4 linked regions of the Homo sapiens genome follow. The protein of the gene in region 3 interacts with the protein of the main gene of each other region in a pairwise test. Each region holds a gene or a part of one and is shown on either strand. Other genes may lie near its edges.

Evidence for each region. The genes of interacting proteins can lie anywhere in the genome.
Region 1: the proteins of LEPROTL1 (region 3) and SLC25A46 interact in binary tests that used the Homo sapiens proteins (3 or more experiments, as listed by UniProt).
Region 2: the proteins of LEPROTL1 (region 3) and VAPA interact in binary tests that used the Homo sapiens proteins (3 or more experiments, as listed by UniProt).
Region 4: the proteins of LEPROTL1 (region 3) and PEX16 interact in binary tests that used the Homo sapiens proteins (3 or more experiments, as listed by UniProt).

The regions. Positions count from the first base shown.
Region 1 is NC_000005.10:110,749,007-110,752,506, reverse strand, and holds part of SLC25A46 (mitochondrial outer membrane protein SLC25A46), read right to left. Parts: intron 1-3,500. UniProt on the Homo sapiens protein: Transmembrane protein of the mitochondrial outer membrane that controls mitochondrial organization.
Region 2 is NC_000018.10:9,917,016-9,920,515, reverse strand, and holds part of VAPA (vesicle-associated membrane protein-associated protein A), read right to left. Parts: intron 1-3,500. UniProt on the Homo sapiens protein: Endoplasmic reticulum (ER)-anchored protein that mediates the formation of contact sites between the ER and endosomes via interaction with FFAT motif-containing proteins such as STARD3 or WDR44.
Region 3 is NC_000008.11:30,098,223-30,102,114, forward strand, and holds part of LEPROTL1 (leptin receptor overlapping transcript-like 1), read left to right. Parts: intron 1-3,675; coding exon 3,676-3,751; intron 3,752-3,892. UniProt on the Homo sapiens protein: Negatively regulates growth hormone (GH) receptor cell surface expression in liver. May play a role in liver resistance to GH during periods of reduced nutrient availability.
Region 4 is NC_000011.10:45,912,021-45,914,877, forward strand, and holds part of PEX16 (peroxisomal biogenesis factor 16), read right to left. Parts: intron 2,665-2,857; coding exon 2,584-2,664; intron 2,449-2,583; coding exon 2,296-2,448; intron 2,184-2,295; coding exon 2,111-2,183; intron 1,919-2,110; coding exon 1,799-1,918; intron 1-1,798. UniProt on the Homo sapiens protein: Required for peroxisome membrane biogenesis. May play a role in early stages of peroxisome assembly. Can recruit other peroxisomal proteins, such as PEX3 and PMP34, to de novo peroxisomes derived from the endoplasmic reticulum (ER).

The DNA.
Region 1 (3,500 bases), on a different chromosome or scaffold from region 3:
TTGGAGTTGAACCAAATGGGTTTTGTGAGAGACTGAACCACACAGGTAGCCTTGGTTACAGGAACTCCTACCTCGCGTTAACAGTCTGAAAAAAGCCACATGTAAATTAAGTAAAGGGTACTGTGGGGGTAGAACGACACATGGTTTAACTCACTGCAACTGGGAGAGAGAACAGGGAAGGGTTTAGCAGTATCTACTGCTAAAGAGATCACACATGACGATCCTGGCTAATATATAATTTGTTAAAAAGTAATACTACTGAGAAATTATAAATTTGCTGACTTAATGAACACTAGAGATCTGCTGTTTTTCTCTTTGATTTGATCATAAACTGTATTTAAAAACCCCTAAATATTGGCAAATCTGTACTATCTCCCCTGTTCTACCTAGTAAATGTTACGCAATTAAAAAACCCCAGGCTAGGAGACCTCAGAGCTCATCCTCCTCATGTAGTAGCTTCTGTGAACTGCTGTTAATGTTTTGTGACCTTGTTTGCTCCTTCTTCCCATTAATAGGATACAGAAACAAACTCTGCCTTCTTCCCATTAATAGGAAAGGTCAAATCTGCCCAAAGAAGAATAAATAATTTTTTAAAAGATATTCACACTATACTTCAAAAAAACAGCTTCATTTGACAACTAGTTACACAAGCCCAAATACAAGAAGTCATTCTTCATACTGCCTTCTCTTTGATCTACCATTCCTAAAGCATCACCAAATTCCCTCAGTTTGACCTAAGTATATTTCAAAACTGTCCACTTACCTCTATCTCAAAAGATACCACCCTGATCTTAGCCACTATCTTTTCTTACCTTTATTATTGTAATAGAATACTAAGATGTCTCCTTTTATTCACTTTGGTCCTCATACAACCTTTTCATCTACAGTTACAATGACCCTTTGAAAACAAATCTGATGTCACTGACCTTACTGAACCTCTTCAATATTCTTAAAATGGCCTACAGGGCCACACATGTTCTGGCTCCCACCTGCTCTGTACCCTTACCCTTGGCCAGAGCTCCAGCCATGTGAGGCTTCTCTCAGTTACACCTGAATTCTCTAGGCTCCCCACTGCAACAGCATTTTTGTACAAACTGGTATGTACCTCCTAATTACCACTCTGATCTACCTTAAGTGTCATGTTACTAGGGACACTGTTTCTAGCCCTTTAATACTTTCATGGAACTATATTCTTTTGCTTCAGAAAACAAATTTCAATTTGCAATTATTCATTAATGGAATTATTGTTCTTAGTGAATGTACTTTTATTAGATTCTGAGCTTCCTGGCAACAGTTACCTTTTGTTTATTTTCCTCACTGTAAACCCGGTTTTTAGCACAGAACCTGGCACATAGTAAGTACTCAGGAAATGTTAGCCAAGTAAATGAATGAATTAATGAGTGGGCCTTATCACCAAAATTATCCAAGTAGAACAATGCAATAGAGGTTACTATTTTGTCTTCTTTGGAAAGATTCAAAATGATGAAAATATATTCCCACTCAGTTGACATGTCTGTCTACTGAGTAAGAAAGTTAGATGATAAAATTTTATAAAGTCCTATGCCTTCCCATTCCTATTTTTCTTTTTTCTTCCCTGTAGCCTGAAATTAATGTTATTCCTTCATCTCTGCTTTAGAGAGGCAACATTACTTGCATAAGGTCCCAGAAATAAAAAGTGGAATAGCCAGGACCTGAACCAATAGTGTTCTGGTTGCAAATATAGTCAACCCTCCATATCCATGGGTTCCACATACATGGATTCAGGCAACTACGGATTTACAATATTTATTTAAAAAAGGGATAGTTGCATCTGTACTGAATGTGTACAGAGTTTTTTTCTTTCTTGTCATTATTCCCTAAACAATATAGAATAACAACTATTTACATAGCATTTACATTGTATTTGGTATTACAAGGAATCAAGAAATGATTTAAAGTATACAGGAGGTTATGTACAGGTTGTATGCAAATACAACACCATTTTATAAAAGGGACTTAAGCATCTCTGGATTTTGGTATCCACTGGGGGTCCTGGAATCAATCCCCTACAGATATGAGGAACAACTGCATTGAATTTTTTTCACTCTACCAAATGGAATTTCCTGCATTTTGTTATTTTTTTACAGAATTGTTTGTTAAAGAATTTCAAGAATATTTGACTATAAGTACTAACTTGGGATCTTATCTAGTGATATAAAAGCAATAAAGTGAATAGTTAGCCAAACAACGAAATACAGATTTTTAAAGAATAAAACAAGAAACTCTGAGCTGCCCAAATGTTGCTGACCTTTCTAATCTTTGTTTTGTTTCAAACGTTTTAGCAAAGTTTATTTAAGGCACTTCAAGACTACGAGGTCCTTCAAAAGCAATCACATTGGAAAAAAGCTTACTATCAGTTTCTCTTGCTTTCATTTCCTTCCCTGTAAGGACTAAATCCCAACATTGGGCATATGCGTTACACTAGTAGCTATGCCTTCAACTATCTCACTTCTTTAACAATGCAAAAAATTCACCTTGCCAGAGAATAAATTTGGATTAACAAACCATTCCAAAGCCTTTAACATTATCGATAGGATGATATACAAAAATATAGTGCTGATATAGAAAATCAGAGTAATGCCAAATAGCACCTTAAAAATTTCTAATTTCCAATATTACCTATTAACATTCCTTTCATATACTCTTTGTAAGATTCCTTTGTTACCCATCATTGTGACTGTCCCAAATGTGTATCATTCCTCTCATGCTTTTCTACTACAACCCCAATGCTTATCATTTTTTCACCAAATAACCCTGTATCCTGCTTCACAGAGAAAAGAGAGACCCAAAAGCAAATTTCCCTAATTTCTCTACCCTCTCTCTCAAATGTATCTACACTTCTAATTCTCCCATTTTTGGTTTCTAGAACATGATTGTCCTACATCTTATGCTATTTCCAATTTGTCTGAGGCCCTCTCTAATTTCTCTCATTATCTCCCCCAACTACCCCCCTTCCCACCGCTCCCACACACACACGGCACACATGTATGCCTAGGATTCTGTCCTTGGTCCATTTTATTCATTTAATCTATGCTTTCTCCTTAGGTGATTTCATCTATCCTAAGCTTCAGCTGCTACTTTTATGCCACAATACCCAAAGCTCTCCCTGTGCTTCAATTTTCTATTTTTTTTTTTTTACTCTGATCCATGGTTCCAACCAAATATGAGACATGTCCCTCTCCCTCAATGTCTTGCAAGAATCTCAAACTTCATTTATTGAAAGATAAATTCTTTATCTTCTTCCCTACTCCAACTTTTTCTTCTTCTTGAATTCTCCATCTTGGTTAACATTTTCCAATCTAGAAATCTCAGTCACTACTGACAACTCATTCTCTCCTATCTCCAATTACCAAGCTAACATAATGACCATCGACTATACTTCAGAAATGTCTAGCCAGCTCATCCCTTTCTGTTCTGTTCCACAGTTCAGAACCTTCTCAGCCTCGCCTAGATTATTACAA
Region 2 (3,500 bases), on a different chromosome or scaffold from region 3:
GCCTGGCCCACAGGGCAAAACCCCGTCTCTACTAAAAATACAAAAATTAGCCAGGCATGGTGGTGCACGCCTGTAATCCCAGCTACTTGGGAGGCTGAGGCAGGAGCATCGCTTGAACTCGGGAGGCAGAGGTTGCAGTGAGCCGAGATAGCGCCACTGCACACCACCATGGGTGACAAAGCGAGACTCCATCTCAAGAAAAAAATGAAAGAAAGAAAGAAAAGAAAAGGAGATGTCTGCTGACTAGTAAATATAAAAGGACCTGAAGTAAGGAAATTATCCAAAGCCCAGACCTTTTCTTAAGTAACACACCCATTTAACCAAATCCACCTTCATGTTAATATCCTGAAAGACCTAAACATATCTACCATACGTCCTCCTCCTCCATCTCTCTCACACACCCCCAAATAAGATGCATTTCGTCCTCATCCAGACATCCACCGTTTCTCAAATAGCACCACCATTTCCCCAGTTATATAAGCAGAAATCTCAGACATTCATACCCTTTTCTCTCAGTGCACATAGAGACCACCAAGTCTCACAGATTCAACCTAACTTTTCATCACCTCCAATACCATGACCTCAGTCCAAGGGGTCACCACTTGCCAGTACTGCTGCAGCCGCCTAATTCATCTCTTTCTCCCCTCTAGTATAATTTTACATTGCTACCAGAATTATTTTTAAATGCAAATGTGATGTTATTCGATTCCCTCCATCTTTACTGCTCCTCCCCTCACTTAAAAACCCTAGTGGCTCAGGATAAAAACAAAACTCCTAACTTGACCTACTAAACCAGCACTACATTCATCTTGACTATTTTCACCACTGCCACGCCGACCTCTTTCAGTATGGTAAATGTTTCACAGTCCCTCCTGCTACCGGATATTTGAACATGCATTTTCCTTTCTTCTTCACCAGGATAACTTTTACTCATTGTTGGAATCTTAGTTCAACTGTGACAGCCTGATCGAAGACCCTTATTTTACATTCTCGTAGCACTATATAGCTCTTCAGGGGTACACTTTATTCTTCTGATTATTTTATTAGTATCTATCTCTCTTGTTAGAACTGCCCCATGAAAACATGGCTTGTGTTTCACTCACAACTGTAGTTCCAATATTTATTCATCATACCTGACATGTAGCAGATACTCAAATCTAATCAAATTAGATCCATAATTGAATGAATTTTAAAAATAAATGAATTTGGAAGTAGAAACACATTGAAGTGGACAAAGGGATTATGTCAAAAATAGAAACACAGATTTTAATTATTAGATATGCATATTGTTTCTGGTGTGAGTAATCATGATGCCACTAAAAAATAAAAATAAAGCCAAGTGCAATGGCTCAGGCCTGTAATCCCAGCACTTTAGGAGGCCAAGGCAGGAGGATCACGCAAGGTCAGGAGTTCGAGATCAGCCTGGGCAACACAGCGGCACCCCCATATGTACGTAAAAAATTAGCTGGGCATGGTAGCATGCACCTATAGTCCTAGCTATTCAGGAGGATCACTTGAGCCCAGGAGGTCACGGCTGCAGTGAGCCAAGAACGTGCATGCCACTGCACTCCAGGTTGAGCAACTGAGCAAGACCCCATCTCAAAAATAAAAATAAAAAATATGGGAAGAAGAGTAGGCATGGGTAGTAAAAATTTTGAGATATTTTGAGTTTAGAATATCATATCTGTGCAATATTCAAATCTAAATAGTGAATAAGTTGTTTGAGTATGTGCTCTTGACTGACGGTAAAATGTGAATTAAAACAGACTTGGGGGTGTAGCAATACCTGCAGAGAGCAAGGAAGATAAAGAGAAAACCTCAAAACAATGAAATGAACAAAGAAAGTTCACAGAGTGAGATAAATGAAACCAAATCAGAATCTCAGAAACATGAGCATTTGAGGAAAATGCCACAAATAAGACAATAAATGGAGCAAATAAGAAAATTAGAAGACAATGCTGTTATAGAAGCCAGAAGAATTGAGGGTTTTTTTTAGAGAAACTGTCGGTACTGTCAAGAGCCAGGGGGAGGTCAAGTAAGATAAAAACTGGAAATGATTAAGTTAGCAATAAGTAGTGAGAGGATAAAAGTACCGTGGACTAAGGAGAGAATAAAAGGTGAGTAACTGGAAAAACAGTGAATATGGACTATTTTTCCAAAAAGTCTGAATGCAAAGGAAATGAAGGACAGGGAGAGACACATACTAGAAAGAGTTATGGTCAAAGAAGTACATGTCTGCTCATTTGTTTTTAAAATCAAAGACTCTGGTGTATTTATATGTTAAAACAATGCAGCCAGTGATTGAAAACCAGCAGGAAAACATCTCATGGAACATGGTCTGAGTCATAAGGAATTTTACCTTAGCCAGCAAAAATAGAGGAACAAAGAACCTTGGGTATGAGCAGGGTTTTTCTTTCTCAGGGAAGAAAGTATGGATGTGTACAGACTAACAGGTGTTACAAGAGGAAGGCACATCATGGAAGAGATGGTATGTCTTACTGAAAAAAAAAAATCTGACTTTTATTCTGTGAGCAATTGAGAGTTACCTAAAAACTAAGGAATGGAGTAATATATGATTAAAGATTACATTCATGTCTTTAGAGCCCCAGGCGTTTTGTATAGCCACTGGGAAACATGAAGAGCCGACTGGAAACACCTAAAAATGTGCTAAATATCCATCCAGAGGAGTATTCTCTAATTTCCCCCCCGCCCCGTGCTGCTTCTATGCAGATGCACTAGCTGATGTTAACACCATACGTCCCTCGATCCCTCAGAGAGCTTAATTTTCTTTGTTGATTTATTGTTATCGGCCACTCTCAACATAAGGATTTTGGTTTATTTTCGTCTCTCTCTGATCATTAAGAATATATTTGAAATTTATTTTAGCATTTTATAAACTTTCTTCTTCAAACTTTTCTACAAAACTGCTAATAGGGGTCAGGTGCGGTGGCTCACGCCTGTAATCCCAGCACTTTGGGAGGCCAAGGCAGGCGGATCACCTGAGGTCAGAAGTTCGAGGCCAGCCTGGCAAAATCCCGTCTCTACAAAAAATTCAAAATTAGCTGGGCATGGTAGTGCATGCCTGTAGTTCCAGCTACTCTGGAGACTGAGGCAGGAGAATTGCTTGAACCCGGGAGGCAGAGACTGCAATGAGCCGAGATCGAGCCACTGCAACAGAGCAAGACTCCGTCTCAAAAAATAAAAAAATTTAAAAAAACTGCTAATAGGTAGAAAAATAAAATGTGTAATACATTATAAATGGAATTTTATCATGTAAAAAATTTTAAAGACAAAAAAAATCTTTCACATAAAATACCAAGTTTCAAATCTGAAATCTAGGTAAAATTACTTCCAAGGTTTAAACAGAATTTGAAGTAAAGCAGCGTCTACTTCTTTTTCTTTACTAACACAAGTGATCTACTTCAGAATTCATTACATCGTAAATGCACTTTTATATGTTAACGACTGTATAAAACAAACTTTTTTTTAAATACTGAGGT
Region 3 (3,892 bases):
TATATAGGTAATAGTGATTACTTTTGATAAGAGAAAGTTCCTTTTCACTTAATTTTTGTTCTGGGTATATGAATTACCTATTGAAAAATATATATAAGTGAGCATAGATGATTCTTTAAAATAAAAATGTGTTTTACTCTGAATTCCCATCTAACAATTGTGTCACGAAAATGAGTTAGTATAAATAAGAACTTAAGGGTCTGTTTATAGAGAATGTTGGCTTTAGTATATGGGCTTTGTAACATCTATTTTGTCTCTTTTTAGTGGCCTTTGTTTTCTCCAGGATTCTAAGTTGCGTATAAATGGCTTCTGAATGAATGAGGTGTTACTAGGTAGTATTTATAGTAATGGACTTAGCTGTCTTAACAGTACCTTTAGTGTTCAGAAAATTATCTGCATTTAAGATCTAGTCCAACTGTCATTTTAGAGAAGGAAGAACTGAGACTCATAAATTACTTGGACAACTAGTTAGTAACTATTAGGGCCTTGGACCCTCCAGAGTCTCAGTTCCATGCTGCTTCCACTCTGCTACATTCATTCCACAAATATTTGTTGAGTGTTAAGAGCCAGGCACGATCATCACAACAGAAAAACTTGCTCCCTCCTTTCGTGAAATGGACAGTTGAGAAGGAAAGACAAAATACAAACCAGTAGGAAATCGCAGCTGATAATTGAGCAAAGGAGAGGCATTCAGTGAACAGAGGACCTCAGCATACACGGGTCTCTGCCAGGAATACTCATCCCAAATACCCACATGATTTCCTCCCTCCCCTCATACAGATCTTTGCTCAGGTGGTGCTTCATCAGAGATGCCTTCCCTGGCCACTGTATCTAGACTAGCACTCCCATCCCTTACTCTACCTGACGTTTGTCATCACTTGACATTTATTCACTTGCTTATTAAAAATCATTTTCTTCTCCCACTAGAACGTGAGAGCAAAAGCTTTGATTGTTGTCATTGCTCTGTCTCCAGTAGCAAGAACAGTATCTGACACACGTTAGGTGCTCCATAGATGTTTGTTAGAGGAATGAATAAATAAATATAACAGGGAATTGGTCTAATCAGGAGGTTTGGAAAAACTTCACTGAGGCCAGGTGCAGTGGCTCACGCCTATAATCCCAGCACTTTGGGAGGCCAAGGTGGGCAGATCGTGAGGTCAAGAGATGGAGACCATCCTGGCCAATGTGGTGAAACCCCGTCTCTACTAAAAATACAAAAAAAAAAAAAATTAGCTAGGCATGGTGGTGCACAGCTGTAGTCCCAGCTACTCAGAAAGGCTGAGGCAGGAGGATGGCTTGAACCTGGGAGGCGGAGGTTGCAGTGAGTCAAGATCGCGCCACTGCACTCCATCCTGGCGACAGCGCAAGACTCCATTTAAAAAAAAAAAAAAAAAAAAAAAAAACCAGCAAAAAAACACTTCACTGGTTGAGCTGAGATCTGAAGGAAAAGCAGGAGTTAAGTTGGAGGAAAGTAGAGAGGAGTGGGAAAGGACCATGCCTCATTCACTGTTGTATCCCTAGTGCTTGTCACATATTTAGTGCTCAGTGAATATTTCTTGAATGAAAAAATGTCTGAGGCAGAAGGGACAAAGTGTGCACAGGCCACGTGAGTGAGCAAGTCTGCTGATTTCCAGGAAAGGAAAGAGGGCCAGTATAACTGAAGTGAGGGTTCAGGGACACTGTAGTAGCCTGGTGTGACACGTCACAGGAGAGGTGGGCAGGGCCCGGTCATGAGAACCAATTTGGAACTGAAGAAAACAAATGGTAAATTCAGTGTTTTCCTTACAGTTTATATTGCATTCCCCTGTAAACTTGAAGTGCCTCGTTTGCTGTAAAGTAAAAATGCAATTCTTTTCCTGTAGCTGGAAATAGAATGGTATTCAGGACTAAGTGATGTGTTCGGGGTTGCCATGACCTGCATCAGCGATCTAACCAAAAACCAAATCTGCCAAGCCACTATGTCATGGGGTGTCCTTGATTATGACTGTTTTAGTTGTGCAGAGTATATCAGTAGTACTTGGCAAAGTTTAACTTGTTTCCTGTTCATTTTGGTTTCTCTATGTTAGCCTTTGTTTTGGTAACTTTTAGACCTTCTACAAATCTTTCGAATTTTAACTTTTGAATTTTAATAAAATGACCTAACAACAACAAAACTAGTTATTTTCTTAGCCACTGTAACTGTAGAAATACAGGTTATATAGAACTCAAAATAAATTTATCATTTACTTATTTATTTATTTTTTTTGAGATGGAGTCTTGCTCTGTCGCACAGGCTGGAATGCAAAGGCGCAGTCTAGGCTCACTGCAACCTACGCCTCCCGGGTTCAAGCAATTCTCCTGCCTCAGCCTCCCAAGTAGCTGGGACTACAGGCATGTGCCACCACACCCAGCTAATTTTTTGTATTCTTAGTAGAGACAAGGTTTCACCATACTGACCAGGCTGGTCTCAAACCCCCAACCTCATGATCCGCCCGCCTTGGCCTCCCAAAGTGCTGGGATTACAGGCGTGAGCCACTGCACTCGGCTATCATTTATTTCTTTGCTTTAGTCTAGGTCATTGGTTAACTATGCCTATTCAAGAAAGTTGTTTCTATTCACTAACGTGAGAGCACCTTAAAATGTACTGCTGTGTGTGTGTGTGTGTGTCTGTGTGTGCGCGCGTAGCTTTAGAAACTATATTTCACCTGTAGAATGCATCTATTGCTTATAATAACATGTTAAAGTAGTGATACCTCAGAAGGATTATAACCCATTGTCCTACAGATTTTCTAATGTAGATTAGGGAAGGAAACCCAGCTCTACTTTTGCAAACTATTTAAAGATTTGCAACAAAATTAATTGATTAAAATCATTAACTACAGATATTCTCGGGCATTTTTTCTGGTCAGTTTTATGCACATTGAGAGTGTATGTGCCAGAAACAGGAGCTGATTAGAAGAGGTTTTCCTATAGGATGAGGTTTCTAAAGTCCAGTAAACTTGAGCATGTGGAGTTTCTCCACATACTGCTTTTCAAAACTGTAGTGATCTGTGAAGTAAATATAATTCTAATGCCCAGAAGAGCATTGAGCCTGTGGACTTTGACTCTTTAGAAAGGGAACCAGCGTCTGGGGAATATGGTGGGGTACTAGCAGTAGGTTAGAGCTTTAAAAATCGGTGTCACTGGCTGGATGTGGTGGCTCACGCCTGTAATCCCAGCACTTTGGGAGGCCAAGGCAGGTGGATCACCTGAGGTCGGGAGTTCGAGACCAGCCTGACCAACATGGAGAAACTCCATCTCTACTGAAAATAGAAAATTAACAGGATGTGGTAGTGCATTCCTGTAATCCCAGCTTACTCAGGAGGCTGAGGCAGGAGAATCACTTGAACCTGGGAGGTGGAGGTTGTGGTGAGCCGAGATCAAGCCATTGGACTCCAGCCTGGGCAACAAGAGTGAAACTCCATCTCACAAAAAAAAAAAAAAAAAAAAAAAAGGCCAGTGTCACTTCATTTTGCCTTGAAGATACCACAGAAGACTTATTCTAAGACTAGATAACTTACACTTCTGATGGCAACTTGCTATTAATACGTTTTAGGGATTTTTGCTTCTGAGGTTACAGATAATGTTCAGACTGCTGATATTAATAAAAATAATATTTAATTTATATTCCTGTTGCACTTTTTATTTGCTTTGCAGCTTTGATTAGTTTGTCCTTTGGAGGAGCAATCGGACTGATGTTTTTGATGCTTGGATGTGCCCTTCCAATATACAAGTATGTAAAATGTTTGTCTTTCTGAATATTTAAGGGTAAAATTTTTCTACTTTTAAAGCTTAAAAAAATGTTTTTTTACTACTGTAAAAGTAATGCAGAGAAATGTTCACTTACCAAACACATACCTTTGTAAAAATCACC
Region 4 (2,857 bases), on a different chromosome or scaffold from region 3:
TCCCAAAAAACAAAAGAAAAGAAAAGAAGAAGGCTGGCTGGGTGCAGTGGCTCCACCTATAATCCCAGCACTTTAGGAGGCCAAGGCGGGCCTTTGTTTCCCTAAAGGACAGGGAGCAGGGTCCAGAGAGGTGCCAGGGTGTGGTCCAGAAGGAGCAGCCTTACTCTTTTTTCTGTTTTAAAAAAAAGATGGGTCAGGCCAGGCGCGGTGGCTCACGCCTGTAATCCCAGAACTTTGGGAGGCCGAGGCAGGCGGATCACGAGGTCAGGAGATCGAGACCATCCTGGTTAACACGGTGAAACCCCATCTCTACTAAAAAATCAAAAAAAATTAGCCAGGCATGGTAATGGGCGCCTATAGTCCCAGCTACTCAGGAGTTGAGACAGGAGAATGGCATGAACCCGGGAGGCAGAGCTTGCAGTGAGCCAAGATTGCACCACTACACTCCAGCCTAGGCAGGCAACAGAGCCAGACTCCATCTCAAAAACAAACAAACAAAAAAAGACAGTGTCTCGCTCTGTCACCCAGACTGGAGTGCAGTCGCGCGATCTCGACTCACTGCAACCTCTGCCTCCTGGGTTCAAGCGATTCTCCTGCCTCAGCCTCCTGAATAGCTGGGACTACAGGCGTGTGCCATCACACCTGGCTAATTTTTGTATTTTTAGTAAAGACAGGGTTTCACCATGTTAGCCAGGATGGTCTCTACCTCCCGACCTTGTGATCCGCCCGCCTCGGCCTCCCAAAGTGTTGGGATTACAGGTGTGAGGCATCGTGCCTGGCTAAACTATGCCAGTTTTGTTTTTTTTTTTCTGTTTTGTTTTTTTGAGACAGGGACTTACTCTGTCACCCAGGCTAGAGTGGGATGGAGTGATCATAACTCACTGCAGCCTCAGCCTCCTGGCCTGATCCTCATGCCTCAGCTTCCTGAGTAGCTAGGACTTACAGGCGCACACCACCATGTCTGGCTAATTATTATTATTTTTTTTTTTTTTTTGTAGAATTGGGTTGCCCAGGCTGGTCTCGAACTCCTGGCCTCAAGCCAACCTCCTGCCTTGGCCTCCTAAAGTGCTAGGATTATAGGTGTGAGCCACTGCTGCCCAGCCTATGCCAGTTTTTAAGCTATTATTAGGTCCTAGACAAAGGGGGTCCCGGGAGCCTTGTCTGCCTCACAGTCCCAGCCACTGCACAGGGTTTCCCCCTGTCAGACTGTGGTCTAACCTCAAGCAGTCATAGTGGCAGGCCTGTGGAAGAACTAGTCCCAAGCTGCCCCCTGCTCAACCCAGCAGGCCTCTCTCAGGCTGGGAGCTCTGGACCCTCGCAGGTGACTGAGTGGGGGCTGGGCCAGGCAGGGAAGGCCAGGGGAGATCCTGGGTTTGGGATCTAGCTCTACCACTGGCTAGCTGGGTGTCTTTAAGTTGCCCAACCTCCTTGAACCTCCAGGTCCTCCTCTGAGAAGTGAGGATAAGCCAAACTATTTGGCAGGAAGAAGTGGAAATGAGCTAGAGGCCATGGGCGCCCGCCCTGTCGCCATCCCTGTGGGCCACCTGGCAATGCCCTCAGCCCTGCCCTCAGTGCCTCTCCTGCCAACCAATGTTTAAGTTCCTGCTCAAGTGGCCTGATGGCCCAGAGAGCTCTGCGGGCGGGACTGGGCTGGCATCTGGTGACTGCCACCCGGACAACACACAGTGCTTGGTGAACCCTGGATGAGGCGTGGGGAAGGGAAGGCGCCAGCAGGGACCGGAGCACCAGTGCCCGCTTGCCAGCCCTCTCCCTGGCTCAGGGTGTCCTGGGTGCTTACTCGGAGAAGCGGTCATAGAAAGGAGAGCGCAGCAGGTAGTAGAGCAGCAGGATGGTCCGGCGCCGCAGCTCCCGCCGCTCCCTCCGGGTCAGGCCCTTTCTGTCACTCAGGAGGCTCAGGCTGGGAGGCAGGGAGGACATGGTCAGGGCCAGGGGCATGATCTAGGCCCACGGAAGGGGAGGAGCCATGGGCTGGGTGTCCAGAGGGGCAGCAACAGGAGGAGCAGGGGCCGCTGCCACCCCGCCTATGTGAGGCCAGGATTATAGCAGAAAGCCCAGTGGAGAGTGAAGCCCCAGGCAGGCCCAGGCTCACCTGGTCACGTCCACAACACCAGCCAAGAGCCAGGGTTTCCACGACCTCTGACCCCACAGGCCCAGGCTGAGCACTGACGGCCAAGGCGTCAAGGATGTCTCCAGCACAGGGGCCTTGCTCAGCACACTCCCCACTCAATCCCCAGCCCACAGTGCCAGCCCTATCCTGCCCCGCGCTAAGGATACAGTGCAGCAGCGGCCGGGCAATGTACAAAAACTCTGCGATGGTCTCCTGCAGCCCCAGGGGGGTGGGGGTCGCACTCAGCTCCTCGTGATGCTGCTGCTGCCGTCCCTCCCGCTGCTGGGGAGCTCCCCAGTGCCTGGAGTGCAGGGACGGCGCTAGAACACAAGGGCGGCAGATGAGCGAGCCAGGCCCAGGCTGGGGCAGGGGAAGGTGGCTGCTGACCAAAGCCAGTCCCTCAAGCCCAGGCAGACAGCACCTAGGTGCCCAGGCCAGCCACATCCTCCACTTACTGTTCTGGAGGGTTCGCACCACCCGGTTTGACCGCTTCCCCACGTAGGACTGCTCATGGTTGCCAGGGCTGTGGTCACCATCTAGCAGGGATAGACAGAAGGCCATACAGTCAGAGGGACATGCTTCCAGCGGAGCCTGCAAAGAACGTGTGCAGTGAATGCTCAGGAGCTAAGGGGAGAACAGATGAGCTTGTACTATGGCAACAGCTGAGTCAAGGGAACTACAAGCAGGGTGGCGGCTCAGCACAAGACCCGTCCACAGAGGAAAGCACTC